2 separate regions of the Homo sapiens genome follow, and region 2 is linked to region 1. The links come from fine-mapping of genetic effects on gene expression. A gene starts in region 1. The other region holds a variant in brackets. All regions are shown on one strand. Distances are from middle to middle. Region 1 holds the start of IL2RG (interleukin 2 receptor subunit gamma). Region 2 overlaps NLGN3 (neuroligin 3).

Region 1 (2,923 bases):
GCATATGTGGTCATTCCCCTGGCCTAGACAAGTCAGGATCCTGAAGGTAGTGCCCCTAATACCTCCTCCCTTCCCATCATGATCCCCTACCTCCTCTTTTCTGCCCATGTACCCTTATGATAAAAGAACACTACTCTGTAGACTCCAATGTCCCACAGTATCCCTGGTCTCTTGACCCTTTCTTTCCAAATTACCCAGATTCTGCAGTTTTAGCATCTGTGTGGCCTGTCTCCTGGGTTCCCGTGGGTCCTGGAGCTGAACAACAAATGTTTGGTAGAGGTGGATCTCCTTTTTTTGCAACTGACAGCCAGAAGTGATTTCTTCAGAGAATAGATAGTGGCTGCACTTCTGGACTTTATCATTATCCGAGTTCTTGTACCTAGAGGAGAAAGGTTGGAAGGAAGAGGAACAGTGGGGCCAATCTGGGTACTGCAGATATCCAGAGCCTAGCCTCATCTCCCCTCAACCGACTTATGACTTACCCCAGGAGAAAACAGTGGGGTACCTGGGAGACTTGCTACCCTCTCTCTTGGTCTCTGATCCAACCCACCTCTTCTTCATCCCCTCCCCCTCGTCCCTTCTCATACCAATAATGCAGAGTGAGGTTGGTAGGCTGGGGCTCAGAGCTGCTGTTCCAAGTGCAATTCATGTACTCGACATTGAACACAAAACACTGAACCTCTGGGAGGGGCAGAGTGGAAACACTGAGGGAGTCAGTGGGCATAGTGGTCAGGAAGAAATCTAGATTGGGGAGAAAATGAAGGCAGGGAGGGAAAGAGAAATGATGGTCAGAAGGAGGAGGCCAAGCACGGTGGCTCATGTCTGTAATCCTGGTGCTTTGAAAGGCTGAGGCAGGAGGATCACTAGAGGCCAGGAGTTTGAGACCAGCCTAGGCAACATAGTGAGACCCTGCCTCAAAAGAAAGAAAGAAACAAACAAACAAGAAAGAAAGAAGAAGTAGCGTGAGGCAGGGAACCCTCCCCCTTGCCCTTCCCACTCCACTTTTCAATTCTGCCCACATGATTGTAATGGCCAGTGGCAGGCACCAGATCTCTGTACGGCCCCTTCCCACAGCCACCCTTCTCACCAGCCCCCTCCAGTCCCAGATTTCCCACCAGCTGTGGTGTCTTCATTCCCATTGGGCGTCAGAATTGTCGTGTTCAGCCCCACTCCCAGCAGGGGCAGCTGCAGGAATAAGAGGGATGTGAATGGTAATGATGGCTTCAACATGGCGCTTGCTCTTCATTCCCTGGGTGTAGTCTGTCTGTGTCAGGAACCTGGGTCCCTCACCCACTACCCCTCCCCACCCACACGTTTCCTCTGTCATAGCTTCCGGTGGAAAGAACCTTATAAACCAGGGCTTTACAGAGGGTGTGGCAAATATGTGCTGTGTGACACGGGCTAAGTCCTCTAGGAGATTAGGTGCTGCTGTAAGGTGGTAAACAGAAACTAAAGCTGGATATACAATAGTGTCACAGACTCAAAAATCCTCAGCCCACCTAGATCCTGGGAAGGATCTGTTCACTACCACTAGCACCATTCTCAACCACCTTCTCCTCTAAATCATTACCTTCTATAATGGAAGTTCTGAACCCCCACCCCCGACATCACCGTTCTATGCCATGCCTCTTCCTTGACTTGGTCACCCTTAAATCTCTGTCAAAGCTCTACTGTTTTGGGAGGATGGAAAATACCGTCTTGGCTCCTGTGGGCACATATACAGCTGTCTTTCCTCTGATCTAATCCAAACCAGAATACCCACCCTTAGCTGCTGCCTGAGCTGGGTCCCTGTTGAGACTGGCGAGGAAGTGTGACTTATAATACAAAAATATTCTAGAAATGGAGGAACAACAATACTAGCTTCAAGCTTCCCATCTTCCCCCAACTCTGCTTCTCTTCCTGCCTTCCCCACCTCAGTCAATGGTATCGTCACCCTCTCAGTCACCCAGACTTGAAACCTCAGAATCAGCTTCAATTTCTCCCCCTCTCTCACCCAGAGAATATAACCCACTCTGCTTCTGTGGTGTTTCTCCCAACGGTTTCCTCCTTTCCATTACCACAGCCACTCTGCTAAATCAGTCTTTCATTAGCTCTAGTCATGATTCTATCTAGACTCCATCAACTGGCCTCCCTTTCTAAAGGCCCTCTGCTCTCTAATCCATTCTTCATCCTGTTGCCAGTTTTACCTTCCCCGAAAACACAGAGGTGATTGGAGAAGCCACTTACAGAAACTATTTATTCAGCAAACATTTATTACGTTTTTAATATGTGCCAGGCACTGTGCTTATGTTCTGGAAATAGACCAACAAGACATCCTCATATTTCTAGACACTCACAGAAAAGTGGGGAAGACATAAACAAGTAATACAACATAGTGTAACAAGTCCTATAGCATAAATGTAGAGATACTACAAAGTATGTGAGCACAGAAGAGGAAGTAACTAAATTTACCAAGATGGAGAGGGGGATAGTTTAGTGAAGGCTGTGCTGAAGAGGTGCTATTTCAGTGGCATCTTAAAGAATGAGTGTAATTTTACCAGACAGAAAGTGGTGTAGGATATTAAGCAAAGAAAAACAGCACTTGCCTGGGAGTCTCAGGAAAACTGGACTATATGGCCCAGCTTAGTATTTAGTATGTATCTTTAGTATGTATTAGTTTGCTAGGGCTGCCATAAGTTATCCCCAAACTGAGTGGCTTAAACCAACAGAAATTTATTCTCTCGGCTGGGTGCAGTGACTCACGCCTGCAATCCCAGCACTTTGGGAGGCCAAGGCAGGTGGATTGCTTGAGGAGTTCGAGACCAGCCTGGCCAACCTGGTGAAACCCCGTCTCTACTAAAAATACAAAAATTAGCCAGACATGGTGGCAACACCTGTAATCCCAGCTACTCGGGAGGCTGAAACATGAGAATCGCTTGAATCT
Region 2 (2,500 bases), 42 kb after region 1:
TTTCTCCTGTGGGAATCAGGGTCAGCTGAGGCCCAGCTTGAGCCTGCCCACTGGGCCCCAGGAGCTCAGGCCTGGGGTCCCTCTACACGTCTCTGCCCTAAGTACCTCGTATCCACAACCTCCACACTTGCTGGCAGTGTCACCCCTCACCCTTGGTACCTGACCCTGCTCTCCAGCTCGACCTGCCTGTGTACACACAAGCAGCCCCTTCCACCCAGAATGAATCCTTCCCCTGAGAGGGTCTCTGGCTCTGTGCCCTGGCCCACTTGCTGCTACCTCCTTCCTCACTGGAAAGGTAGTTGGTTGAGATGGGCTGTTGGGGACAAGGAGGCGGGGCAAGGCGGTGCAGAGAGGCCAGCACAGCAGGGGCCTGCAACACCATCATCCTGATGAAGGTCTGGGCCTCAGCCCACCCATTCCCTCAGTTCTTGCCATCCCTCCTGCCTGTCCTGGGCCCAGGCCCGGAGCTGGCTTGCTGGGCCACACTGCAGTCATGCTGTTTTTGAATTCTCTCTCTGTTTTGTTCTCTGTTCTGTGCTGTTGTGTCTCCCCGTGTCTGGTCCCCAGGATCCGGCGCTAAGAAACAGGGCGAGGACTTAGCGGATAATGACGGGGATGAAGATGAAGGTATTTGGGGGCTGCAGGGCGCGGCGGCTGGTGCATGGCACAGAGCCCCTCCCCTTCTCGATGGGGAGAAGCCCCGTCTGTCTGTCTGTCTGTCCGTTGGTGTGTTTCTGTTCCTGTACAAGGCCGTTGGGCTGTTCATCTGTCTTTGGCCCTGTTGGCCACTGGGAGTTCCGGGGTGATGGACATGGCTGGCAGGAGCAGGGGACCACAAGCAGAGCCATGGGGAGGACATCCTCCTTGCCTGGGTCTCCCGCCCCTTCCCCATCTTCTGTGGTTCAGAGGCACCTGCCCCTACTGAGCAGCAGGGAGAGTGGAGAGAAAGCAGGACCACTGAGGGCGGGGAGAGGACAAAGACAACGGAACGGCAAGGAGATTACCTGTGTTTCAGTGAAGAGACCCCTGTGTCTCACAGGGAGCCTGGCTTCTGGGAGAGGGGCCCCGCAGGATGGTGAACTGGGAAGTGAGGCAGTGACAACCAAAGGGGCTGGAAAAGCAGCACCAGAACCTCCCCAGCCTTCTAGAAAAGAGAGAGATGGTCTCGGGGCTAGGGGCTGCAGTAGGTACAAGACAAGGCCAGAAAGACTGGGCTAAAATGCCAGGCTGAGGCCAGGACACCACAGCCATCAATAGATGGCATAAGATCCTTGGGCAATGATCGGACCAGCCTTCCTCCTTGGAGAAACAAGTTCTGTTTGCTCCGCAGCAGAGAGCATTCCCTTCCTCCTCCATGCCCTGGCCCTGCCCCTCTGCCCCGAAGGGGCCAGGCAGCTCAGGGGGGCCCAGTGGTGATGGGTAGGGCTGTGCTGGCATGGCAGAG[A/G]GTATTGGTCCAGTTCACGGACTGACAGGCTACAGGCAGAGGTGATCAGGCCTGGAGCCTTCTCTTGACTGCCCCAGCCCTGATGCCGTGCCGCCTGGGCTCGGGAGCAGCCGCTTGATGGTCCCTTGTTGAATGGCCTCTGGGGAGGCTCCATCTTCATCTTGGTGCTGACTGGGAGCAGGCTCTGTCATTCTTAGTTCTTCCCCATCCCCAATGCTTCTGGTTAAGTCTGCCCAGGGAGAATGGGGAAATGGGCACATGGCTAAGAAACCATGTCAACAAGGTTCCCCCCACCCTATCTCTGCCATTCACTCCCCTTTCCCACATCCTTCCTTGTTCTCTCCCTGTGCCACCCCTTATTCCCACACCTCTTGTCTCTGTCTGCACTGGGGGGCCAGCTGCTGCCAATGGCCGTTTTTCCATGTAACTGGTCTAGTCTTGGGGGTTTCAGGGCTCCCCAGCTCCTGCTCTCTAAAGCCATGTCAGGTCCCAGGACTCCTGGGTGCCCAGGGCAGCGACTCACTTGATGTGGCTAAAGGACCAGCCCTTCCTCTTTCTGCTGCCCCCCGCCCCCAGGGCCCAGCCATGGCCCACTGAGGCCTGGCTGTATCACATGCCTGGCTGCCTTCAGCTGGGAGGCACTTGAAACCAGAGCCTTTAAAAATATCACTGAAGCCCCACTGTCTCGGGCTGATGCTTGAGCTCCAGGTTGAGCAACCCCATGAGTCCTGCCCTCAGGGATGGCGGTGGTGTCCTGGCACCTGGGATAGCTTTGCTGCCCGCACCCACCCCCTGGGCTGGCAGGGGTGGGGGAGCAAGGGCATCCCACCCAGCCTGTGTCTCACCCCTTCTCCTTGCAGACATCCGGGACAGTGGTGCTAAACCCGTCATGGTCTACATCCACGGAGGCTCTTACATGGAAGGGACAGGCAACATGATTGATGGCAGCATCCTCGCCAGTTATGGCAATGTCATCGTCATCACCCTCAACTATCGGGTTGGAGTGCTAGGTATGGTTCCCTGCCTGGTGCCTGGAAGGAAGACTGGCTTCGCAAG

The links. PIP is the estimated chance that this variant, and not a neighbour inherited with it, causes the effect.
Region 2: its variant is the best candidate, but not a certain one, in a credible set for the expression of IL2RG in whole blood (TOPMed, PIP 0.70).

The regions. Positions count from the first base shown.
Region 1 is chrX:71,110,310-71,113,232 of GRCh38, forward strand. It overlaps IL2RG (interleukin 2 receptor subunit gamma), which reads right to left and starts at 1,268. Exons shown (of 8, transcript NM_000206.3): 1 at 1,116-1,268; 2 at 588-741; 3 at 195-379. The coding sequence starts at 1,230. RefSeq lists enhancers at 729-1,928, 1,031-1,420.
Region 2 is chrX:71,152,910-71,155,409 of GRCh38, forward strand. NLGN3 (neuroligin 3) reads left to right here. Exons shown (of 8, transcript NM_181303.2): 4 at 568-627; 5 at 2,305-2,454. Among named protein-coding and RNA genes, the nearest start is that of NLGN3, 9.3 kb to the left of the region's middle. RefSeq lists an enhancer at 274-773. The variant A/G (reference allele first, on the strand shown) is at 1,445.